Homo sapiens: one gene and its partners. The protein of the gene in region 2 purifies or fractionates together with the protein of the main gene of each other region. This does not show direct contact. Each region holds a gene or a part of one and is shown on either strand. Other genes may lie near its edges.

Region 1 (3,500 bases), on a different chromosome or scaffold from region 2:
TTCCATCTTATTTTTCTTAACTAAAGTATTTTTGAAGAACAGAAATATTCTATCCACATTACAAAATGCCTGGAAAATGCAGAAAGAGGACAAAAAACCCACCCACAATCCACTTGGAGGTCACCTCCTGGCCCCACGTGCTGTCCGCCACAGTCTCCCTCCTGCCCTCCCGTGAGCCAGCCCCTGGGCCCACCAGGCCTGGCCCTGCGCTTCCCTGCAGCTTCCCGGCCCCACTCTCCTCCCGAGCCTTGGGTTCTTAGTGCTTCCTTCACCCAGCAGCTCTGGTGAGGGGGCTACTGAGTGCAGGCACCAGGCGAGAAGGCAGAGACCTGCCTCAGAGAAGGAGCCGTCAGCAAGGCCACCCGGAGGCCGGGGAGGAGGAAGCAGCAGGGGGCGGCCACGTGCGGCGCAGGCTGCAGGGTTCCCCGGAGCGATGACCAGGGCTGTCCCCGCAGCAGGAAGAACGAGCGTGGTCTCTTGTTCCCCGCTTTTCTCATAGGAGCCGCATCCGGCTGGCTCCACCTGCTTGCAGTCCGGGGCCCACATGCTACCCCTGCAGACATCCCTGTTGCCCCGCACCCCCATGCCCGGGCTACTCCCGGGCGCCTGCCTGCAGCTCCTGCCCGCCCCCCTTGGATTCCAACAGGCCACCCAGCCATGCTGGTCCTCACTGGCCTCCGGGGCGCTCACTGGCAGCCTGCATTGCTGCTTTAACTACAGCTTATTTTCATTGCAAAAGATTTTAAACGTATGGAAGATGTGGAGAGAATAATAGAACCCACACTCTACGGATTCAAATCTTAACATTTTCCTATTTGCTTTAGACGCATTTTTAAAGAAATAAAGCACCGCACATGTAGTTTGAAGATGCCTGTGTTCTCCTCAATCTTGCCGCATTCACTCTCCTCAGGCAGAACTACTGTCCTGAGTGAGGTCCCTAGCCGTATCTGCGAGGATATATACGCAGGCACGCACATACATGCACACTCACACACAGAACACACATGCACACGCACGCTCACCTATACACACGAGTAACAGTGGTTTCTCAAAGTAATTCGTCCGTGGAAAAAACTCAAACCCCCAGAAGTGCACCGGAAGCAGGTTCCTGGGAACTCTCCCTGTGGGGGAAGTCTCTGCACTCCCAGCACTGCGCTCTGTGACCCTCAGGCTGCTGCAGGCCGCACCTGGGACACCTGCCCTCAAACAGCTGCCCGCCCTGCAGGACACCATTTTCACCAGAAGGCAGGCCCTGTGGTGACGTTTCCACTCTTTGCTGTGAGTGCTGCCTCCAACGGCCACATACATGCAACCTGTCTGTGGTCTAAATTCCCAGAGGAGGGAATTCTTTTTTTTTTTTAGATGGAGTCTCACTCTGTCACCCGGGCTGGAGTGCAGTGACATGATCTCGGCTCACTGCAGTCTCTGACTCCCAGGTTCAAGCGATTCTCCTGCCTCAGCCTCCCGAGTAGCTGGAACTACAGGTGCACACCACCACACCCAGCTAATTTTTGTGTGTGTATATTTTTAGTGGAGATGAGGTTTCACCATATTGGCCAGGCTGGTCTCAAACTCCTAACCTCAAGTGATCTGCCCACCTCGGCCTCCCAAAGTGCTGGGATTACAGGTATGAGCCACTGTGCCCAGCCAGAAGAGGGAATTCTCAGCACGCCTGGTGGTGGGGTTGCCTTTATCTCTCTCGCCAGACCTCTGGGAGCTCACACCACCAGGGAGCCCACCTGGCAGGTGACTGAGTCCACAAAGGAGGCGCCACATGCCCGGGTGTGCTCATGCATGTGTGTGGGGCACTGCCTGGGAACGCCTGTGCTGCACCTGTCTGCTCTGGGGCCTCATGTCCCCTGCTGCACAGTGACAGCAGGAGGAGCCCGATGGCACCTGAGGAGTGGGGTGCACACATGTTCATGTATGTGATCACATGCATGTGTGTACACGTGATTGTGCATTCATGTGCATGTATGGAAACATGCACATAAGCAGGACGGCATGTGAATGTGTGTAGATGAAGCTCATACATATGCATGAGCACCTGTGCATGTGTGTGTGCAGTGCCTATGAGCGTGCACGTGTCGTGTGTGCCTGTGTTGTGTGGCGTGGGCACATGTGCACTCTTGGGTTGTCCCTATCTGGAAAGGCCCTTGCTCCTGACCCAGCTGTACTTCTGCTGCCAGCTTGTCTCCCTTTCTTTCCTAACTTTCATCTAGACCATGTCATGGATGGTCCTCAGGGCAGTCTTGCTACACAAGCCCAGTTCCCACCCACCTGGTGGACCCCGGAAAGCTGGCCTCTAGGAAGGTAGGCTGCAGGATCCAGAAGCCCCTTCCCCTCCAGTTCCTGCTGCAGCCACCACGAGTCCCATTCCTGCCCCATTCCACCTGCCCAGCTCTAGGAAGGCACAGGGCTCTGTCCCAACACATGCTGTGGCTGTTCCTGTCCTTGCCCCTGGGCCCCAGGAAAGTAGCATATGACACTTGAGGCCCGCCCCCGCCCCAGCTGCTATGTTCCTGCCTCCTCTCCACCCTCTGCCTGGCACCTGCCTCTCCCCTGCCTCATGCCTCCACTTTCACCTGTCCTTTCCTGGAGGTGGCCCCAAGCTTCAGGTCTGACCTCTCTTCCACCTGTAGCCAGTCCTTCCAGCAGCCCCCAAGCCAGCCCCCACTAGGCTGCCTGGCTCTGCCCTCCTTGCATCAAGAGAGAAGTCTGGTGTCCACATGTCCCAAACACCTCCTGTCACTTAGTTAACCTCCCTTTCTAATGTACAGAGACAGCTGCCCCTCCCACTCCACAGGGGTTCTCAGGCGCACAGCAGCAGGCAGCTGGAATGGAGAAGAGAATGACATTATGTCATTTGGTTTCCAGTCTGCTTTGGTTCTATAGTCACCTTACACTAATGGTAAGTGAAACTAATCTTCTGTTTAATGAAGTAATATGCAGTGCTTTTAAACAAATTGTAATTAAAATGGGAGTTGATGGGAAGAGAAAGCGTGAAGTAAACAGAAGAGGAGATGCATGGTCAGAGTTCCAATCAAGAGTGGTAACCGTGCTGAAGTACGGGAAGCAGGTCCGTTGTGAGACCCACCCACCCATTCCACAGATGGGAAGCCTAGGCTGCCCCTGCCCTGCGGAATGGCGCTGCCCAGACCCCAGCTCAACCCAGCCCCCACTCTGCCTCCCCACATAGCACATGGGAGCTTTTGTGTCCTTGATATCCAGGCCCCTGAAGAAGGGCATGATCCCTGATGGAGGGAAAGGAGGGGGGCCCAACATGAAGAGGTGCCCGGGTCGGGAAACCTGCTGGCTGAGGACAAGCTGTCCTGGCAGTTCCAGAGACAAAGGGGAGGTGGTGGGCAGGGCCTGGGCTTGGAGGGGTCTGCACGAGCCAAGAGCCTCTGCAAGTCAGGCCTTCCAGGTGCCCTGACATGAACAGGAGCCTTTGCATTGCCTGTGGCTCTCTTGGGGTGAGGCAACAGGTCCAGGCAGGC
Region 2 (3,765 bases):
CAAACCCAGGAGCTTGGCTATTGCTGCCTCTGGAAAAGGCTGGTAGATATCTTTAGTGCTGATGTAAAACTTCGTTCACAAACCACTGGAGAGATAGATGAAAATAATGAATAGGGCTGGGCGCCGTGGCTCACGCCTGCAAACCCAGCACTTTGGGAGGCCCAGGCGGGTAGAACACTTGAGCCCAGGAGTTCGAGACCAGCCTGACCAACATGGTGAAACCTCATCTCTACTAAAAAAATACAAAATTAGCTGTGTGTGCTGGCACATGCCTGTAATCCCAGCTACTTGGGAGGCTGAGGCAGGAGAATCACTTTAATTCAGGAGGCAGAGGTTGCAGTGAGCCGAGATCATGCCATCGCACTCCAGCCTGGGCAACAAAAATGAAACTCCATCTCAAAAAAAAAAAAAGAAGAAGAAGAAGAAAAAGAAAAAGGAAAAAAAAAGAAAATGATGAATAGATAGGTAGATTAATTTGTTAATTAAATAATATATCCAGGTAAGGTTTGAAACACAACCTTTATTACGTATGATGTTTACATGTTAGACTGAGTGCTGGTCCCTCATCTGCTTCATACCTTGGGCAGCCTGTCTGCTACTATCTCCATGGCTCTTTCTTCTCCCTGGAAGTGAAGAAAACAATTGAGGCAGAAGAGGAAGAGGCAAGAAACAATACAAGCATTGCTAGTCAGTTACCCTTCACCTTTGTTTTGAAGCTCAGAGTCATGCAACCCACAGTGAGTTCATTTCCAGATCAAATGCAGCAAAATGAAGGTTCTGAAACATTTCCAGTTCTCTTGGTGTCTCATCAGGATGATGTTGTTACCTCTCCAAATTCCCCTTTTCCCCAAGGGCTATATCTATGGGCTCAGGTGGGATCCCAGCTCAGGCCAAAGGCTCTCAGACTCCACACCTCTGATCTTGCTGGCATCCTGTCCTTTCAGGCCAATCCTGGCCCTTGAGGTTACACTGAGCTTCCGCTGCCTAGAAGAGCTGCAGCACCTCCTCTTAGAATTGAGGACAATCATGCAGACATTGAGAAAGTTCCCAGTCAATGCTCTTCACCTTGTCATCTAAGCAAATGGAGGACAATTCCCCCAGAAGCACCAGGTGCACGATAAGTTGATGTGGCTGCAGAGCCACCAGGTGACCCAGTGCATCCCTGCAGCTCCTTCCCTTGGATTCCTCTGGGCCCTCACAACACAGCCTCAGAAAACTGCAAGTCTCACTCCTTACCTCTTGCAAGAGAAGGCCACACCATCTTCCAGTATCTTCTGGCCCATAAGTCTCAGCTGCTGTGTGAAAATCAAACCAAAGAAAGACACTTCTTAGTTAATGCGACTTTTGAAATTCTCAGAATTTCCTGCAGGAGCTGGAAAGGTCAAGACAAATCCTGACTTACAATCGAGACTTTATTAGATGCCTAGGCAAGAAGCAGGGATCCCAGTTATGTCCCCCTCCATTGTTCCCTGAGCCAATAAAGCCCCCAAATCTTCCTTACAGAGACCTAAGCCTGAACTGGGGAGACAGTACTGGCTCGGGGAAGCCATTGCTCCCTCAGCAGACCCACAACCCAGGCTTTGCTCACTTCCTGTCCTTTGGAGAATGAAACACACAGCCTGGACATTGGCTCCAGGATCTCCTCAGGCCAAGGTCTTCTTCTGTGGGCTGCCCCTCCTCCTCCTTTGCTTCTGGTTTCTCTTCCTCCTCCTTCTCATTTCCATTTTCCTCCTCCTGCTCATCTTGGGTGCTCTCTGATTCCATGTTGCCTGTCAGCTGAGCCATGGTGAGATGAAAGACGTGGCAGCTGAAGCCCTCTCTGATCCCAAACTGCACATGCTCCTGGAGGGCTTCCATGGTGGTGAACACCCGGCAGCAGGCCATGCACCTGAAGCCGTTCTCCATGGTCACCAGCCAGTCAGGAGTCTTGGCTCTGGGTGTGTCCTCAACGGTGGGTGAGCCTGGCAGGCTGTCTGATTCTGTCCTTTCCTCATGCTCTTTCTCCTCCCCACTGGGCTCACTGTCAGACAGGAGGTTTCTGGTGGACACATCAGAGGGGGGAGTACCTACCCTCACAACCTCAGAAAGGGTCACTTCTTCCATCCTTGGCTGCTTTTCTAAGGACTCCAAAGTTTCCTCTGTCTCCCAGGAGACAGCCACACCTTTGTTCATTTGTACCTGCATGTAGTATATTTTCATGCCCCTTTCCTCTTTGTTTACACACAGAGAGGACACACAAGTCTTATAGGATGAATAGGACGACAAGGAGACATGTTGTGAGCGGGGAGGAGTCTCTCCTCGTTCCTGAACCTGGGCCAGGGGTGATTGAGGCTGGGGGCTGTCTCGATGTATTCTCTGGATTCCTGGGAAAGGAAATTAGAAACATGAGCAGATGCATGGGCCATGCTAGGAGCTGAGGGAACGTAAGTTAAATATGTGTGGTGCAGGAGACAGGGACTGTGGTGAGATGCAGCTGTGTAGTGAGCTTGGTATTTGTTGTTCATATTGTGGGGTAGTGATTCTAGTGTCATTTGCGTGTAGGGATGTTGGTGGGGTGTCCATATACAGGGGTGTGGAGTATGGTGGTGAGGACTGCAGCATATGTGGAATGTCGGCAGCATGTGTGTGCTATGAGGATGTGAGTTGGTGCCATCATTGATGTGTTATTTGTGGAATGTGGGAGGTAGTGTGGGAGAATGGCACTGCAGGTCATGCATTTGGGTGGTGTGTGTGCAGAAAGTGTACCTGTGGAGCGTGTGGCTGTATGTGTGAGGTGTGTGGGCCTGAGCTAGAGTCCCGCTGCAGTGCTGGAGGCCTGGGCTGAGGAAATCTGTCTTTCTCTGGAAGGCAAAGGCAGAGCCCAAATAGTTCCGATGAAAGTGCTTAATCTGGTCCTGTGGCCCTACACCCCAACAGCAGACTTTTCTGGCCTCTGCTCCCTGACTGCCTGACTGCACACCAGGGCTCATGCTCTCCTACACTGAGCTTATATCCATGCTCTTCTAACAGCTCTGTCATCTTGCCCAGACACCTCTGCAGAGCTCTGATCATATCCAACTGCCCTGGGTTTCTTCTTAGCCTCATCCTTGGATCTATGGGCCTCCTGCCCCCTACCCAAGGAGCCCTGCACCCAATCCCATGCCTAAGGAGTCCAGCACCCAAAGAGTCACATACCCATAGCGCCCTGCATCCAGAGTCTCATGCTCAAGGAACCTCACACCCAGAGAATGTCACATCCAAGGAGCCCCACACCCAAAGACTGTCACACCGAAGGAGCCCCAAACCCAAAAAGCCCCACTCCCAAAGAGTCTTACACCCAAGCAGCACTGCAACCAAAGAGTCTCATGCCCACAGAGCCCCACACTCAAATATTTTCATGCCCAATGAACCCCACAGCCAAGGAGCCACGTGCCGAAGGAACCCTGCACCCTTACCACTGTGGATGAGCTTGCGTGAAGAAGAAACGCAGGAGCAGTATTCGGAGGTAGAAGTAACTTCTCCCACCCCTTGGCTCCAGCCTTTGGCCACTCTAGTGGATCCAGGCTGCAGGGCATCCTCTTGGGACTTTGACATTCCTGAGAAAGGTATGAAGGGAACAGAGATATGATGGATGGGTAATGTTTGTGCATCATTTACCATCCAACAAATATTTACTGAGTGGCTGACCTATGTCAGGTGTAGTGAACACACATGGTTTGTGAGACAGGCTTCTGGTGGATACTCCAGTATTTAATTACAGTCAACAGGTATTTTGATAGTGTATCA
Region 3 (3,500 bases), on a different chromosome or scaffold from region 2:
AGGAGGTGCCAAAGATTGTATCAGTGAGATTTTATTTTCCTTCTCAGGTACTGTTCTTTCTTTTCTTTTTTCAGCTATTTTTTTTAACACATCAGAGAATGTTATCGTTTTGCCTCAACTGTCAAACATAATTCTTCAAAAGTCAACAGAGGAAGAAAAGCCCACTACACTCACTCAGAGTTTTACTCTTCCCATTGTTCTTTCTTCCTTCCTGATGTTCCAGGTCTCCTTTTACCATTTCCTTTCTGATAAGAGAACTTCCTTTGGCCATTCTTTTAGAGCAGTTCTATTATGACAAATTCTCTTAGTTTTCCTTCATCTGTGAATGTCTTATAGAATTATGAGTCGACAGTTGTTTCAACACTTGGAAAATGTACCACCTCCTTCTGGCCTTCATGGTTTCTCCTGAGAAATCTGCTGTCACTCATATTGTTTTTACCCTATAGGTAAGGTGCTGCTTTCCTTTCACTGCTTTCAAGACTTTAATTTTCATAAGTTTGACTATGGTATGTCTTGGCATGAATTTGAGTTTATCCTCTTGGGGTTCACTGAAAATGTAGGTTTATGTCTTTTGCCAAATATGACAAAAATGCAGCCATTACTTCTTCAAACACTTTTTCAACCCCACACTCATCTCCTGTTACTACAATGATGTGAATGTCACATCTTTTGTTATAGTCCCACAGGTCCCAGAAACTCTGTTCATTTTGTTCATTACTTTTTCTTTTAAGTCTGCTCTTTGTCAGGTAATTTCTATTGTTCTACCTTCAAGTTCACTGATTCTTTCTCCTGTCATCTCTATTCTGCTGATGAGCCCATTCAGTGACTTTTTTATTGGCTATTGTATAGTTCTAAAATTTTCATTTGATTCTTCTATCTTCTAGGTTTTTGCTGAAACTTTCCAGTTCTTGCTGAGACTATTTTTCATTTGTTTCATGTGTATCTGTAATTTTATGAAGCATTTTTATGATAGCTGTTTTCAAATCCTTGCCCTATAATTCCACTATCTGAGTCACCTTGCTGTTGAGATCTGCTGATGGCCTTTCCTCACTCAGGTTTAGGTATTCCTGATTCTTGGCATGACAAATGATTTTCAGTTGTGTCTGTTGTGTTGTTCCTTAGGTCCTTAGGTTCCTAGCCAGTCTGTCTTTTTCTCTTCACTTTTCAGGTCTTCTTATGCTTGTATTATAAATAACATCCTTAGCAGGAAAAATAAACACAAGTGTGTCTACTCTATCTTGTCTAAAACTGGAAGAGTTCTCGGGTGTTTTTGGAAAGTACTCTGTTCACCCAACGTTATGAAGAATAAGTCAAGATAATATTACTAATTTGTGTGGTATATTTCCCCCATATCATGAGCTCAGTCTCATCTTCACACTATGCATATTCATTGGAAAGTACTCTGTTCACCCAACATTGTGAAGAATAAGTCTAGATAATATTACTAATTCGTGTGGTACATTTCCCCCATATCACGGGCTCAGTCTCATCTTCACACTACGCATGTTCAGCTGGTAGCAAGGGGACGCTGACTCTGACCCCTTTTCATAGCTCATTTTCTTACCTGGAATGTTCTCCCTTCTTTTTCCCATTTCCTCCTTCAAGAGCCAACTCAAGAACCCCTTCCTTTGGACACCTCTCCACTACCACTGCTCACATAGATCTCTCCCTTCCCTGCCCCTAGATTTTGATTGCCCCATGGTCTGTTTTTCTTGAGGGCAGAGATCATGCCTCACAGGTGCCTAAACGATGGACTAAGTACTGAATGTGAAGGGCACTCTCAAAAATGGATTCGGATACTTTATTGCATGTGAGCAATGGAAAGAACCCAAAAATATATCTAATCCAACACCTAAGTTTGCAGATAAAGAAAATGAGGTTCTTGGCCAGGCACAGTGGCTCATGCCTATAATTCCAACACTTTGAGAGGCTGAGGCAGGCAGATTGTTTCAGCTCTTCAATTCGAGATCAACCCCGGGCAACATGGTGAAACCCCATCTCTACAAAAAATGCACAAATGAGTCAGGTGTGGTGGCACATGCCTGTAGTCCCAGCTTTTTGGGAGGCTGAGGTGGAGGATGGCTTCAGCCTAGGAGGCAGAGGATGCAGTGAGCCAAGAGCATGCCACTGCACTCCAGCATGGGCCACAGAGACTAACCTTGTCTCAGAAAAAAAGAAAATGAGGTTCTTGATTTATAAAACTGGAAAAGGCCAGGCACAGTGGCTCACACCTGTAATCCCAGCACAGATTACTCTGGGCAACAGAGCAAGACTCTGTCCCTCCCCCTCAAAAAAATAAGTTAAATAAAAAATAAAATAAAACTGAAACAGAAGGACCACACAAACCCCAAAGCAACAACAACAAAAAAAAACAGGGTATGTCAGCCCCTATCTCTTACTTAATTAACTCAAAGCTAATTGTTTTATTTACAGATCATTAGAAGCAATGATTATCTTGCCTGGAGAATAATTTTGAGTCTCAGAGAGCGGAAGAAATGTGGTATGATCCTAAGACACAAAGTCTGTTTCTGGGCATCACAGTCAGCTCCTTTCAATCCTTCCTTAGGACTGTTAGATTAGATTAGTTTGTGGAACTAGCCAATCCCTGGAGTCTAACACTAGCAATTTCCCGGTCTTCCAGCCTAGAAGCTATCTGACCTCAAAACTAATTTTCTTTCATGATCTTTCACTATTCATTGCCTTGATTTCCATGGAAACTCTATAATCACAACCAAAAATGTAAAATAAGAGAAGACGACATGAAACTCTGAAGAACCCCACAGACTTTTCAGGGCTCTCAAATGTCACCTCCTTGAAGAGACCTTCCCTGATCGCCCTTGCTACTCCTGCCCCCAACTACCACATTGCCTGGTTTCTTTATTTTTGCCTTTATCAGTATCTGAAATTGCTTAACTTATCTGTTCACATTTTTGGTATTCAGCTCCTCCATTAGAATGTAAGCTCCATGAAAGCAGCGCCTTGGTCAGTCTCGTTCACCACAGTATCCCAAGACTTAGAATGACACCTAGCATACAGTAGGTGCTCAATCACTATTGACCAAATGAAGGAATAAATAAATCAATAAAGAAGCGCATACATTTTTCCAAGTCTGGCTGGTCTAACCCTAATGGCTGTTTACCACCACACTCCAGGATTCTTGGTGGCAACATGTGGATACTCCAGGATTCTTTGGTGGCAACATGTGGATACTGCCAGTGGGCCAAGGTGACATTTCACTCAGTGATTAAAATGATCATGAGGAAGGTGCTCACGGGTACTCACTCTCCACTCCCCCTGATAGGAGTGGCCCTGCCTGCCTGACTTGTTCACTTGGCACTTGCAGGGCCAGGGAGCTTTTAAACTGGGGGTGGGGAGTGAGGTGTGTGAGCAGAGCTCAGCCAAGAGCACAGCTACCACTGACTCAAAGAAACTAAGGGTAGGGGTTGGGGAGAAGCAATATCTGACTGAGAGGAAAACAGAGGGACAACAGGGAAAGAAAG
Region 4 (3,957 bases), on a different chromosome or scaffold from region 2:
ACACATGGTACTCCAGGGTTCTTTAATCAAACGGTCCATCAGGGTGTCAAGAGCTCTTTCCCCTGGTTTCCAAGAGAGGAGAACACGATCCTTTTTTCCGGGCAGGAGGAGAGTGCCAGGGACAGATCTAAGGGCAGAGGCCACTGACAAATGGAAGGTGAAGTCTGAGATGTAGACACTACCAGGACAGCAGCCATAATATGTGGAAGACCCAGGACCAGAAGAGCCTGTGTGTGTGTGTGGGTGGGGGGGGGGGGTGTATAACAGCAGAAATGGATGCTATTCATTTAATTTGGATACCAAGGATTCATGCTTAGGGGCTTGGAATAAAGCAGATACACATCTTTCTTCTAAGTATAGAAGAAAGGTCCAAGTAGGAGGCTGAGACAAGCGGGTCTAACTCTCCCTAAAGATATTTTTCAAGAAAACTTTTCTCCTCTATATTAACACGATGCAGGATTTATTTCTGTTAGTGTACTAGATAATATAATATACATATGCATGTGTGTGTGTGTGTGTGTGTGTGTGTGTGTGTGCATATGTGTGCCTGTATTTCAGAGCATATAACCCAGGCTCCCAGGTTCCCAGAAGTCTCCTAGACCCCATAGATAATGCATTTTAGTGCCAGCCATCATCACGAATACTCAGTGATGGAATGAAAATTCCTATCCAGTTTATTTGACCACAGGTAGACGATGGAGGATAAAGTATCATCAGACGATAGAATTAGTAAGGGAAAGAAGTCAGGTAATGGGTAATTTCTCTGGAAACTGACAATTTCATTTCTTCTAGTCCTACTCCCCCAGTGAAATGAGAAGTCAGCAGAGGCCCATGAGATAGATTTCAGGCAATTCAACTAAATCTGTGGACCCAGTGGAATTTTGAGCAACGAAGAACCAAGATATCTGTTCCTTTTAACATGACCTGGCTTGCCACCCAGGGGGCAGGCTTCCCACTGACGGCTCTTCCAAGTCACCTCCATAAACTCATCAGGCCTTGCAAAGTTGCATTTCCCCTCCTCATTCCGAAGACACAAATCAATATACACAGAAGCACTTATGCTTGGTTCATAAAATCTCCTGTGTAAATGCTGGAAACATTTCCATGCCAAGCCTGATGCAGGCTACTTCCGACAACAGCCAGTATTACCGTGGTGTGTGGGAACCCTGGGAAAGGAGAGAGATGCAAAACCATGGCAAAAGCCACTGCTGAACCTAGTGTCAAGCCAAAAGCCAATTGGGTTGGAACAAGACAGTGCCCATGTCCTTGTGTGCTTTAATATGGTAAGAGCTAGGGCTTTCTTAATATGGTGAAAATTCCAGAGGGGCATAAGGTGAGTCAGCTGCTCACACACAGATAAATGCCTGGACAAGTCCTGCCAAGGTTGGCCATCAATGGTAGATAGGAAACAAGCTGCTCCCAACTCAGTAGCCCAAGCATCACTGAAGCCACAGTGAACCTCCTCCACCACCTCTACAGGAAAGTATGAGCAGATATATGGGCGCCTAGAAAGAAGACCCCATTCTGTCACCCCATGGGCAACAGATTCCACAGTTGCCCTGAGAAGATATCCAAAAACAAACACAATCAGCTCAATTTAGATGCAAAAGACAAGGGGGAAAGGATGCTGGGAGCTGGAGGAGGCATCCTAGCAATCTATTTCGAGGGGCTCTTAGCACCTGTTTGCAAGCACAGCTCTCAAAATAGCATTCAGCAACAAGTTTCTGAAATGGCAAATCTACAGCTTCTTTTCCCTGCAAGTGCTTTGTCATGCTGATACTCTGACCCAAGAAAGCATTTCCAAAGAGCCTGCGGGATAAAGCGGAGCAATGTTGAACATGTCTGCAGCCACTGCAGCGGCAGCAGCAGCCCACGGTGCAGGGGAGGCTGGAGTGGACGCTGCCCGGGCCCCACCTCCTGTCTGAACACTCACCATCAGCAGGCCGAGAGCTGAGTCGGGCACCAGCTGCACTGCCATGGTCTCCGATTCCCATGCACGAATCCTGCTGCCGAGTCAGTCCTCCTGGGCCCCGGGTGGCTACAGAGCATCCAAAAGCACCTGCAGAAAAAGCAGCCAAAATCCAGACTTAGGGAGCAAAAGGCTCAAGGGGAAGATAGGCCACCTTTCACACAGGGTGGGGAGGAGGTCAGGGAAGACAGGGTGGGAACTGTGCTTAGGGAGGAAAAAAAAAAAAAGAAGAAGGAAAATAGGAAGCTGCAGGTTATTTAAAAGTGAGCCCTCCCTAGCTTCGCAAAGCGGCACAGACAGGGAGACCGCATCAAACACAAACGTGAAAGCTTAGAACACGGAATGTTTAACTGCTACCTTCGCCCTGGCAGCAATTCTTCCTTTAACTGACAATTAAAATAAAACATTCCCTATTGCAGATAAATCAAGCAGCCCGAGCCACCCCCTCTCTCTGCATCTCTCAGCAATTCTGCTGCATAAACATGCTGAATGTCACAACATACCGCTCGCAATCTGGTCAGTGTCTTCTTTGCTGCAGATAGGTGTGTCCCTTTTTGCAAAATCAGATATCTGGGAGTGAGACAGCCGAGTCTGACCATGAGGCACCAGGCAGTCACTGGAGATCAGCAAATGCCCTTACCATCCCCGAGGAGGAAGTCACTTAGGAACTGACCCTTCCACCTTCCCCAGATCTACTTTTCCTCTCCAAGTAGACTGGCCAGCTCAGCTCCCGGTAGGGCTAACATACTTAAGAGGAACATGGAATTGCACTGCCTGTTCTGTGAGCGTTCTGATCTCCCTGGCTGTACCACATGTACGCCGCATACAGACACACTCTACCTCTCTCTCCCTCCCTTCCTCCCGCCCTTCCTCCCTCCCATCCCTTCCCTCCCATCTCTCCACAGGGCTGCCTGTTAGGAATTTTGAAGGAGCCTCCCTAGTTCAGGGAGGCATAGGAGGTGAATTTGTCACAAGGGACACTGCTTAACAGGAAAAGGCAAGTTAGCCTTGAAAATCATATCATGCAGCATTTTCCCCGGAAGATGTCAATGAAGGGAGAAAGAAAAAACCTGCCGAATCTTGTTATATAATGGGTAGCTCAAAGGGCTTTCCAGAGTCAAAGACTTAAGAAAATTAGATATCTTTTCATGAGCACTGTCAAGCTTGTATCTTCTTCTGGAGTCCATGTATTCAACTAAAAATGGTTATTCCTGATACTTCTAGTATGTCCTTTTCTGATTTCTTCCTTTACTCACCTCCTGTAATGGCTCCAAAAAATCCTGAAAATTAACTAGACAGTGTGAAATGTAGAAACATAGAGAACAGTTTTCGAAATAAGAAACTAGGGGGAAGAAATTAATGACCTTTCATGTTCCTGTGCACGAGCATAGCTACTGTTCCTTTATTACTTATACTTTTAAAACTATTGATTTGGGCCAGGTATGGGAGCTCACACCTGCATTCCCAGCACTTCTGGGGGTTGAGGCAGGAAGATAGCTTGAGACCCAAAATTCAGGGTGAGCCTAGGCAACATAGCAAGACTTCATCTCTACAAAAAAAAAAAAAAAAAAGAAAAATAGAAATAAAAGAATTAGCCAAGCATGGTAGTGTGTGCCTAGAGTCTCAGCTACTTGGGAGGCTGAGGTGGGAGGATCAGTTCAGTCCAGGAGTTTAAGGCTGAAGGGAGCTATGACTGCACTCCTGCAATCCAGCCTGGGGGACAGAGCAAGACTCTGTCTCTAAAAAAATTTAAAAATAAAAAGTATTTGCTCATCACAGTGCTTAGCACAGAGTAAGTACTAAAATATATTCAATAAATGAGTGAAGGCTGGGTGCAATGGCTCACGCCTGTAGCCCCAGTACTTTGGGAGGCTGACGTGGGCAGATCACCTATGGTCAAGAGTTCAAGACCAGCCTGGTCAAGAGTTCAAGACCAGCCTGGTCAACATGGCAAAACCCTGTTCTATGAAAAACACAAAAATTAGCCG
Region 5 (3,500 bases), on a different chromosome or scaffold from region 2:
GCTTTTTTAAAAAATACATAACTTTAAACGAATTGTTTTTAGAACGATTTAAAATTACTTTTGGAATACTTAGAACTGTGGTTATTGTTCCCAACTGGAACATGTTTTTATGTTCTTCCTCCAAATTAACAGGTATTTATTTTGTTGTCTAAATTAATCTGCATAATTTTTCTTCAGGCTTTTCTTCAGCAAAATGGATCAGCCTTTTGGGTTCTTTGTTTTGTAATTTTATGTTGTTTGGGTGCAGAACCAAAGCTTAAAAACTTTGTATCTAGAGCATATGGCATAATAAACACTTAACAAATATGTGAATGAATGAATGGATTGAATGAATGAACAAACAAAATTGAGGTGAAGCAAAAGCACTGATGTCATAGGGTGTAGGGTCTTCAGATGTAGAGATTTTTGCAGTTGGCCTAGTAAAATGAACTTGAAGATTGACACTGGTTTGCAGACAACTGGGAAATTCTGTTATTTTCAGCAACGTATTAACAACATACTGTAAAAATACAGTTGTAAAGTTCATAGATCCAAAGTTTCATAGTACTTTTTTGATAGAAATCATACATGTTTATGGTAGAAATTTTGTGAAATACAGGGAATGAAGAAGAAAATATGACTTGTTTTTAAGTCTGCCACCTCGAGAAAGGCAGTGTTAGTAGCCATTTGGGATATTTATGCCTACAAATGTCAGCACTTAATTAAAATTGAGGTTATATATTTTCAGTTTTGAATCCTTCGTTGTTGAGAATCCAATTAAATTTTGTTTTCTCTTTAATTTTTAAACTTTACAGGCCCCTTCACAGATGTAGTCACTACAAATCTTAAATTGCGAAATCCATCGGATAGAAAAGTGTGTTTCAAAGTGAAGACTACAGCACCTCGCCGGTACTGTGTGAGGCCCAACAGTGGAATTATTGACCCAGGGTCAACTGTGACTGTTTCAGGTAGCAAATCATGTTCTGAATTTATGTACATTTGAATTTTGACCTTTTATGATTATGTTTTTGTTTAATAAGGTTTCATCTGGAGGGAGGGAAATAATTCTTATATTATTCTGGTTTTGCCTTTAAAGATGTCTTGTTACAGTACTCTGCAAGCTGTTTCAGAAAATTTCTCACTCATCTTCTGTGTAGGGAGTGTGGTCAGTTTATAAGAAATTATTGTCAATTACAAACTTTAGTCTTTATTTCTACAGCTAACCACTACCTTCTCTGCCTTTGTTATTTTATCTTTGAAAAATTATATCATTTTTCTGATGGGTCATTCTCCTTCAGATCATGATCATATTACACATTGCATGCAGCTATAGAAGTGTCATAATTCTTTTGCTTAAAAAGGTGCAATGCCACTTTTTTGCCTACTGTGTCAAATCAGATGAGTCTTTATGCCTTTCATTGTAAATGTCAACAGTGTCCTGTGTGTGAAAACTTTATTTTTATTTTACTACTCTCTTATGTGTTTACTTGTCAAAGAAGTATGCTTGCCATATATGGATTACTTACTCCTGCTGTGGAGTTGATACTGGTACCATATCTAATGCCCCCTATAAACTGTTTCTTTCTTTCTCAGTCCCTCTGACTTCACTAATATAGCTGAGAAATAGGAAATAGGAAGTAAATATGAGAACTTTTATGGTTCCATGTATTTTACTTAGGGGAGAACCTCTCAGGCTGCATTTACTCTTTCTTTACAGCAGTACTTCTCAACTCCCACTATATGCTGTAATAACACAGGGAGCAGGAACACACATGGATTCATCTCTCCCAGATTGGAATCTCTAGGAGCATGACTTAGAAATGTTACATTTAGGCCGGGCGCGGTGGCTTATGCCTGTAATCCCAGCACTTTGGGAGGCCGAGGCGGGTGGATCACGACGTCAGGAGTTCAAGACCAGCCTGGCCAAGATGGTGAAACCCCATCTCTACTAAAAATACAAAAAATTAGTCGGGTGTGGTGGTGGGCGCCTGTAGTCCCAGCTACTTGGGAGGCTGAGGCAGAGAATTGCTTAAAACCAGGAAGTGGAGGTTGCAGTGAGCGGAGACTGCACGAGTAAGACTCCGTCTCAAAACAAACAAACAAAAAAAGTGTACCTTAAAAAAAAAAAAAGCCTGGGTGATCTTGATAAGTAATCCTAAGATATTATAATAATTCTGTATCAGTTTTCAAGTCCACAGCAGAATTGGGTACAGAGAGAGAGAACCCAGGGTAGGCTCATTGAGAGAGTATTTAGAGGTGGAGCCTGACTACAAAGGCCATGAAGGACAGACCATAGAGTTCTTGGTGACACTAAATCTTCCCTCAGCAGGTATAGCCAAAAACCTCAAGAGCTAGGAAAAAGATGTTTTAGTGAGTCTTGCGGTAAGGAGGCCTGGGAGGAGTGCTTTTCATGTTTCTTTGCTAAGTCTAATTCATCAGTTCCTGGGAAAGAGAGATGGGAAATAAAGATGAAGGAATGCATGCACTCTGCATGTTGCTGCTTTCTACTACATCTTTAAGCCTTTAGCACAATTGGAAGAAGAGAGAATTCTTTCTTTTTTGAGACAGTGTCTTGCTTTGTTGCCCAGGTAGGAGAGCAGTGGTGTGATCTCAGGTGACTGCAACTTCCGCCTCCTGGATTCAAGTGATTTTCCTGCCTCAGCCACTTGAGTAGCTAGGATTACGGGCGTGTGCCAACATGCCTGGCTCATTTTTGTATTTTTAGTAGAGGCAGGGTTTCACCATGTTGGCCAGGCTGGTCTCGAACTCCTGACCTCAAGTGATCCATCTACCTTAGCCTCCCCAAATGCTGGGATTACAGGCGTGAGCCACTGCGCCTGGCCAGAAGATATAATTATTTCAATCCACATGGCTAAAAATAGTTTATTGGTACAAACAGTTATATCCCTAGGAATCCATACAACTATGCAGAATGACTTTTTCTTTGAGGGGCCTAGATTGCTGGTTTCTGTGTATTAATATTTCTTGAGAAAACAACGTATCAAAACACTTTCTCCCACAGAAACCTGACTTATTAAAACCTTCAGACAAACTGGTTACTGATTACGCAAACATGCCCTTGGATTGTTCTACTTAATTAGAATTTGGCTTTTCCAGTTTTTAGTGTAGTGTATTTCCATTTACAGTCACTCAAAGCTATGCTTCTTCCAACAACCTTCTCTGGTTAATTCTCTGTACTACATGCTCATTTCTCTTTTTCCCTGTGTCCTTTTGACGCTTTGTTTTTTGAATTTGCTTCAATTTGTGCACATTTTTATATATGTTTTCAAGATCGTCTTTGTCTTGTTATGTGGTCTGCAACCTAAATTAGAGTATAACTCCTATAAACTTAACCATGTTGTAAGTTTTCGTTTTATTCACAAATTTTTGGTTCATAGTGATTAGCTTATAATCATTAACTCAGTGAAGGTTGCTAATGGAATTTTATTTAGCTTAAGCTGTATTCTGAGGCATTTTATCCAGTACATTTCCTGCTGCTGTGTATTTGGCCCCTTGAAAAA
Region 6 (3,500 bases), on a different chromosome or scaffold from region 2:
ACCGTGTTAGCCAGGATGGTCTCAATCTCCTGACCTCATGATCCGCCCGCCTCGGCCTCCCAAAGTGCTAGGATTACAGGCGTGAGCCACCGCGCCCGGCTGGAAGCTATTCTTTTGTTGTTGTTGTTGTTGTTGTGTCACTATGTTAACCAGACTGGAATGCAGTAGATACTCACAGGTGCAATCATAGTAGACTATGATAGCATTGCCCAGGCTAGACTCAAACTCTTGGACTCAAGCAATCTCTTGCCTCAGCTCTTGAGTAGGTGGGACTACAGGCACATACCACCATGCCTGGCTCCTTTAGTATTTCTTGTAGTGTAGGTGTGCAGGCAATTCATTTTCCTTCATCTAAAAATGGCTCTTCACTTTCACTCTTGTTTTTTTTTTTTTTGAGACAGAGTCTCACTCTGTTGCCCAGACTGGAGTGCAGTGGCATGATCTTTTTTTAACTTTTTGCTACAATTTGCTAAGGTGTAATTTTTCCCTTGTCTATCTTGGTCTTTGAACTTCTTTTCACACCAAATGTGGAAATTTTCTTCAGTTTTTTTCTGCCCCATTCTCTCTCTTCCTTATGTATGAGATTCCTATTCCATGCATGCTAGTCCTATTTATTTTGTCCTGCAGACCACCAAGGCTCTGTTCATTTATATTTTATTTTTTTGAGACGGAGTTTCATTCTTGTTGCTCAGGCTGGAGTGCAATGGCGTGATCTCAGCTCAACGCAACCTCCGCCTCCCAGGTTCAAGCGATTCTCCTGCCTCAGCCTCCCGAGTAGCTGGGATTACAGGCATGCGCCACCAGCCTGGCTAATTTTGTATTTTTAGTAGAGATGGAGTTTCTCCATGTTGGTCATGTGGGTCTCAAACTCCCGACCTCAGGTGATCTGCCTGCATTGACCTCCCAAAGTGCTGGGATTACAGGCATGAGCCACCACACCTGGCCTATTTTTTAATTTAATTTAATTTAATTTAATTTTTTGAGACAGAGTTTTGTTTGTTACCCAGGCTGGAGCGCAATGGTGTGATCTCAGCTTGCTGCAACCTCCACCTCCTGGGTTCAAGCTATTCTTCTGCCTCAGCCTCCCAAGTAGTTGGGATTACAGGCATGGGCCACCACATCCAGCTCATTTTTGTATTTTTAGTAGAGACAGGGTTTCCCCATGTTGGCCAGGCTGGTCTTGAACTCCTGACCTCAGATGATCTACCCGGCTTGGCCTCCCAAAGTGCTGGGATTACAAGCGTGAGCTACCGTGCCTGGCCTGTTCATTTATTCTTCATTATTTTTCTCTGTGTTCTTCAGGTCGTGTATATGATCTATCTTCAAACTTCCTGACCCTTTTTCTTCTGTCTCCAAGATGCTGTTAAGGCCATTCAGAATTTTTTTTTCTTTTTTTTTAGAGATGAGGTCTAACTATGTTGCTCAGCCTAGTCTCAAACCCCCAGCCTCAAGTGATCCTCCCACCTCAGCCTCCCAAGGTGCTGGGATTACAGGTGCGAGCCACCATGCCCGGCCCCATCCCAGTGAATTCTTAATTTCAGATTGTGTACTTTGCAAGTTCTAGAATTTCTATTTGGTTCTTGTTTATATTTTTTCCTTTTACTCCTGAGATGTCCACATCTATTCCTCTATGAAGATTATATTTTCCTTTGTATCTTTAAACATATGTAAAATAGAGCCTTTAAGATCCTCATCTGATAATTCTAGTATTGCAGGGTCTGTTGACTGTTGTGGTTTTTTTCCACCCTGGTTGTAAGCTATATTTTCCTAATTCTTTGTGTATCTAGAAAGTTCTCATTGCATGCTGAACATTATAGTTGCTACATAACTGGACATAGAGATTTTATTATCTTTAGAGAATATATTGAGTTTTGTTTCCACAAGCAGTCAAAATACTGGCAAATCACCTTGATCCTTTTGAGGCTTGTTTTTAAGCTTATTAGTTTGGGTCTAGAGTAGCTTTTACTCTATGGCTTTGGCCCTACCCCTAAACTGTGGTCTTTCTGAGATGTCAATGGAGTGTCCAAGGAGTTCAGTAAGGTTTCCACTCGCTTGTCCAGAACTTTTATCTCCTAGTAATCTATAAAATCTCCAGTTCACCTCTCCTTTGCAGCTCTTTTCTACTAGGCCTTGTAAGCTGTTATCTACAAGCTTAGTATTTGATCAAAGACTTAAGGGGAACCTTTTGCAGATTTCTGGAGCTCTTTTTTTCTTCTCCCCCTTATTCTGCCCCACAAACTCCAGCCATCTCAGAAGCCCCAAATTCTCTGCTTCTTCAGATCACTGAGACCACTGTTTCCAGCTTAGGCTCTGCCTCTCCATAACACAGTTTGGGAAGTGCCCTGGGTAGAGACAGTGACAGTGGGGTTTTCCCTTCTCTCAAGGATCTCAGTCTTACATGAGTATTAGTCAAAACCTGACATACATAAAACAGTGGCTTTATATATTTTCACAAGTTTTATGCTTGTTTATAGTAGGAAATCTAATCTTTGTCAATTACTCCATCATGACCTGAGCCTTTTTTCTTTTCTTTTTTTCTAAAGAAGAGCAATTTATTTTCTTACAGTTCTGGAGGCTGGAAGAGTACCATTCAATCCACAGTACACCTTGGAAAGGGCTCGGGATCTGAATTTTTAATGACCACCTCTAGTTATGGTTGAGGCAGTTGGTCACACAGTGTCTTCCATTGTCTGCCTGTGTTTTTATAGCCTTCTCTGTTGTGGCTGTAAGTCGAGAAGTGGTCAAGATGCCTTGAGCTTCTCATTGCTTCCCATATCCCTAAGCCCTTCCTTCCTTCCTAGCATTCATGCACACAGTTCCCTCTTGGAATCTTGTACTTTTCCCCATTACCTTTTTCACATATTTATGTGTTACATAAAACCAGAGCCATTGCTGCATGCATTTGAGCAAGGTGCTTAACTTCTCAGGGTTTGATTCTTTAACTCTAAAATGTCTATTCTGTTTCTTAAGTTTTACATGTATACTAAAGACAAGAGTGCTTTTGATTTCCCAGTTGCTTTGCCATTAAACTTAGACCACAGGACCCTTCAGCATGAATGACCAATAACCCAATTGTGTAGTACAAAAAGTACAGCTAGGTACCAAAAAAACAACTGGTTTATCTCTGTCACTACCTCTGCCACAGAAGCACTATTTGTGGGCCCTGTTTCTTCATTTGGTAAAATGAGGGGTTGATCCAGAAGAACTCTGAGGTACTTCCCACTTCTAACATTCTCTGATAATCAAGAGTTCACAAAGAAGAGAATACTTACTTCACTTCAGTTAATCAAAGAAGAGATATAAAAATCCTTAAGACAGTCTCTGGCCATAAGGACGAAAGCACCTAAGAAGCAGATTAGTATATGGTCTTTTTAACCTTTTTAAAGCTAATACAGTTTCAGCCATGTCTGCCTTACCTGTAATACCCATATGACAGTTGTGAAATGCATCTGTAAGACCATCACAGAGTATACTGTCAGTCAGTGGCATCTCACCTATCT
Region 7 (3,500 bases), on a different chromosome or scaffold from region 2:
TGGCTACCCCTTGAAAAAAGGTTGTGGATGGGAGTCAGGAGCTATGAGAACATCTCTGTAACAACCTCTAACTTCCCTTTCTACCCCAGGGATCTATCATAATAGATTGCATTATTAGAATTCCCATGATTTACTCCACAAATTCTATTCCCTTACTAAGTCATGTCCTCCATGATTTCACCCTGTCCTCCTACACCAGGAAGAGAAATGGTGATATGTGCTTGACAAGAACTTGGGAATAACCAAGCCCCACACAAATGCTCAGCGACTTCCATGCTGTGACTACTCTTTTCATGAACGAAGATGTGATAAATCGTGACGACTGAAAGTTGTAGAGATTTGTTGGGATAAATGGGAGAATCTCCAGCAACTCTCAGCGGAAGCTCCCGAGGAGCTAGCAATGGGTGTGACATGAGAGACAAATGCAGCAATCCTGAAAGGTGACCAGCCTCATACATGCTAGCCTAGACTGTAAGATGCTCTGAAGACAGGAGGCATCTCAGCCCCGTGCCTCCTCACCACACTCATCACTTTCCACCTCCTTGTATCCTACACATAAGGAATTCCTGTTGTTGGGAACCAGATCTGGTTCATTGTTAGCCCGTGGAGGGCTGCACCTCTTCTCCTTCAGGGCCACATGGTCCACTCCACTTCTTCAAGTCTTGGATCAAAATCAGTGCAGCAAGACCCCGCCCTGACCATTCTATTTAAAATTCCATCCCTTACTATCTCCCTATCTTATTCCTCCCAGGATAAGTAAGCCCATCTCCCTTTCTTATTTTTTATGGACTTTCCCCAGTGAAATACAAACCCCAAGAGAGCAGGAGAGGGGTTTGCTGCATTCCCTTGGCATACCCAGAGCCTATTGCAGTGCCTGGCACGTGGTCGTGATGGAACGAAGCACTGATAAATAGCAGGCTGGTGGGGTTGCCGGATGGATGGAAGGAGGGAGGTTCTACACACAGACTCAGGCCCTCAGCCTCCTCTGGAGGGAGGGAGGAGGCACGCTATGGCATGGCCCCATTCCTATGGCAGCCATCCTGCAACAGCTATTCAACTTTCCACTTGTGGAGTGAAAGCATGAAGTTTAATTCCACCAGATGACTAATGTCCTAATAACTTTGGTAATATGCCACCCTTATAAACTGCCTGCATTCTCCAGCAGGATCCCAAGGAAGCAGAGATAAATACATATATTTAGGGAAAATTGACCTTTAAAAGTCAAGGTTCCATGGGCCAATTCCCAAGTCATAAAGAGCTCATGTGAAAAGTAACCTTTAGTTTGCCATCAAAACTGGTTTCATAAAGAAAGCGTTTTAAATATACATTTGGGAGTTTCACAATAGGTTCCTTTTACACTGCTGATCTGTGACATGAGACAAGGCTTGCCAAGATTTTCAATAAAAAAGGATATATTGATCTAATTACCTTCTATTCAGGTTCTTTAGCACCCTCAATTTCTGTTCTGGCTGATGCAACACTGCATCTCTACTGTGCAAACTTTCTATCATTGGTTGAGCATCCCCTTCCAAACCCCAAGAACAGGGGTCTGGAACTCAACCCTTACATCAATCAGAAGAAATATTTCCTTGGCAGACACAGAATCAACAAGATTTTCTGGACCTCCAGGGCAGTGCCAAGGTTTCTGAGCATAGTAATAGCTATGAGCATCTGAAGTTATACAGATGAGTTCTGAAGTCAAACCTACTCCAGTCTTGAGAGTTACACACACTTTCCCAGGGGAGAAAAACAAAATCAGAAGAAAAGCCAGTCAGATCCATTTGCATAATTTGGCAGAAAGTGCAACCGGACAAACAGCAGCTTTTCTGGGCCGTCTGCTCTGAGGAAATGAATAATATTTATGGCCTAATAAACTGTGTGCTCCACAAGGAGAGGGGCAATCAGAGAGCCCAGGCAGAGCTGTAGGCTGGGTGAAAAGACACAGGAAGTCGGGCATCGACACAGAAAACTCAGATGTCACTGAGGGAAACAAGAGCCGGCTTAGTGTTCCCCGTGGAGGCTGGACTTTGGTGGGAGACACCAGGAGAAGTGCTCACATCTACAGTTCGCGTCCTGCCTTTGGAACAGAACATCATAAACCCTAGAGTCAGGCTCACCTGAGAACCACAAAGTCTCTGGAAGGATGGGGAGCCATGCTGTTCAGCACATACTGGTAGATCTCTGTTTGCCTGTCTAGAGTTTCCACAACCTTCCACTGCACAAAGTCCTCGTCCCACAGGTGGCGCTCTCTCAGCACGCGGTTCAGGACCACTGAGGGGGGTGCTTCCACCTCCACAGAAGCCTTCCACAGCTTCAGCGGGTTCCCGTCGCCCACCTTGGGAAAGACAACGTCAGAAGCTGAAGAGGTTGTCTGGGATATGGGTCCAACATTTTTTGTTTGGGCTTTTAGTTTTGCTATCATACCTTGCTGGGTGTTCAAAAACCATCACTGATTATGTAAATTGAGAGTGATACTACATACCTCAGCTGTAACATTTTAGTCCTTAAGCTTAAAAGAATAATAATGATGATAAAAATAATAATCACCAACACACCTAGTGGTTACTGTGTGCCAGGAACTATTCTAAGCCATTTGGTTTGTAAATTAGCCTTCCTCCGACAGTGGTACTCTTACAATGTCCATTTTGCAAATGGGAAAACTGAGGCACAGAGAGGTGTGTGACTTGCCCAACATCACACAGCTACGGGGGAGAGACAGGACCGGGATCCAGCTGTCCGGCTCCATAGTTTACTCTCTGATTATAGGCAACAGATCTCTGGACTGAGTTCTTTGAATGGTTCATGTGCCTTAACTGTCCGCGTGTGTGCCAAGCCCTGTGGACACAGCAGCTGTTTTCAATGCAAAAACAAATGTCTGATTGTTAGCTGTGGCTTTCTGGGGGTGATCTTTTTCCATCCTCTGAGATTACCTTTTTGAAAGCAAGATCTGTATTGTCCGTGCTGGAGCACGTGACCCATCCTTTGAACTTCTCCTTGGCTTCTTTCTGGAGGCCCTGGATGAGATGGTTCAGGTAAGTGTGGAAAGTTGCCCCACTCTCCTCCAGCTGTGTCCCCAATTCTTCCAGGGTTGGCACGTGGATCTCAGCCTCCACATACGAGTTACGAGACTGGGCCACCAACTCGTGTGGAACCTAGACCAACGGATGCATGAAAGGGCAACACACTGAGCCAAAGAAACGCCGAGACTCAAAGAAAGCAAAGCCATTTCACCCACAACCCGGCTCTGAGCCACGGGCCGAGGGCCACACGGCCAGAGATGTTTTTCTAAGATCATTGCCAAGGCCGGGAGGGGCCTTCCTAAAGTCAGGAAATACAAACATGTTTCTGAGGCTGTATTTATTATTCAAAACATTGCAATGACTTCCCCTTTATTATTTTCACTTCCCTTTTATTTTACCTTTACTGTCTTTTTATTCAGTTTGGCAAAATATGGGCTCAGACAACTTTACCCACTATGAATAAGACTTAAAACAGACAGA

The links.
Region 1: the proteins of FAM170A (region 2) and CAMK2B purify together in Homo sapiens (affinity purification with mass spectrometry; one large-scale study listed by BioGRID and IntAct). This does not show direct contact.
Region 3: the proteins of FAM170A (region 2) and NTPCR purify together in Homo sapiens (co-immunoprecipitation; one large-scale study listed by IntAct). This does not show direct contact.
Region 4: the proteins of FAM170A (region 2) and FRMD4A purify together in Homo sapiens (co-immunoprecipitation; one large-scale study listed by IntAct). This does not show direct contact.
Region 5: the proteins of FAM170A (region 2) and VAPA purify together in Homo sapiens (affinity purification with mass spectrometry; 4 studies listed by BioGRID and IntAct, with this or other methods). This does not show direct contact.
Region 6: the proteins of FAM170A (region 2) and ACAT2 purify together in Homo sapiens (co-immunoprecipitation; one large-scale study listed by IntAct). This does not show direct contact.
Region 7: the proteins of FAM170A (region 2) and STARD13 purify together in Homo sapiens (co-immunoprecipitation; one large-scale study listed by IntAct). This does not show direct contact.

The regions. Positions count from the first base shown.
Region 1 is NC_000007.14:44,221,095-44,224,594, forward strand, and holds part of CAMK2B (calcium/calmodulin-dependent protein kinase type II subunit beta), read right to left. Parts: intron 1-3,500. UniProt on the Homo sapiens protein: Calcium/calmodulin-dependent protein kinase that functions autonomously after Ca(2+)/calmodulin-binding and autophosphorylation, and is involved in dendritic spine and synapse formation, neuronal plasticity and regulation of sarcoplasmic reticulum Ca(2+) transport in skeletal muscle.
Region 2 is NC_000005.10:119,632,558-119,636,322, reverse strand, and holds the end of FAM170A (protein FAM170A), read right to left. Parts: intron 3,576-3,765; coding exon 3,435-3,575; intron 2,364-3,434; coding exon 1,589-2,363; intron 1,296-1,588; coding exon 1,289-1,295; 3' UTR 1,237-1,288; intron 624-1,236; 3' UTR 501-623; downstream 1-500. UniProt on the Homo sapiens protein: Acts as a nuclear transcription factor that positively regulates the expression of heat shock genes. Binds to heat shock promoter elements (HSE).
Region 3 is NC_000001.11:232,971,111-232,974,610, reverse strand, and holds part of NTPCR (cancer-related nucleoside-triphosphatase), read right to left. Parts: intron 1-3,500. UniProt on the Homo sapiens protein: Has nucleotide phosphatase activity towards ATP, GTP, CTP, TTP and UTP. Hydrolyzes nucleoside diphosphates with lower efficiency.
Region 4 is NC_000010.11:14,328,125-14,332,081, forward strand, and holds the start of FRMD4A (FERM domain-containing protein 4A), read right to left. Parts: upstream 2,801-3,957; 5' UTR 2,473-2,800; intron 2,060-2,472; 5' UTR 1,979-2,059; coding exon 1,934-1,978; intron 1-1,933. UniProt on the Homo sapiens protein: Scaffolding protein that regulates epithelial cell polarity by connecting ARF6 activation with the PAR3 complex. Plays a redundant role with FRMD4B in epithelial polarization. May regulate MAPT secretion by activating ARF6-signaling.
Region 5 is NC_000018.10:9,931,016-9,934,515, forward strand, and holds part of VAPA (vesicle-associated membrane protein-associated protein A), read left to right. Parts: intron 1-794; coding exon 795-947; intron 948-3,500. UniProt on the Homo sapiens protein: Endoplasmic reticulum (ER)-anchored protein that mediates the formation of contact sites between the ER and endosomes via interaction with FFAT motif-containing proteins such as STARD3 or WDR44.
Region 6 is NC_000006.12:159,768,545-159,772,044, reverse strand, and holds part of ACAT2 (acetyl-CoA acetyltransferase, cytosolic), read right to left. Parts: coding exon 3,417-3,500; intron 1-3,416. UniProt on the Homo sapiens protein: Involved in the biosynthetic pathway of cholesterol.
Region 7 is NC_000013.11:33,107,756-33,111,255, forward strand, and holds part of STARD13 (stAR-related lipid transfer protein 13), read right to left. Parts: intron 3,153-3,500; coding exon 2,931-3,152; intron 2,336-2,930; coding exon 2,118-2,335; intron 1-2,117. UniProt on the Homo sapiens protein: GTPase-activating protein for RhoA, and perhaps for Cdc42. May be involved in regulation of cytoskeletal reorganization, cell proliferation and cell motility. Acts a tumor suppressor in hepatocellular carcinoma cells.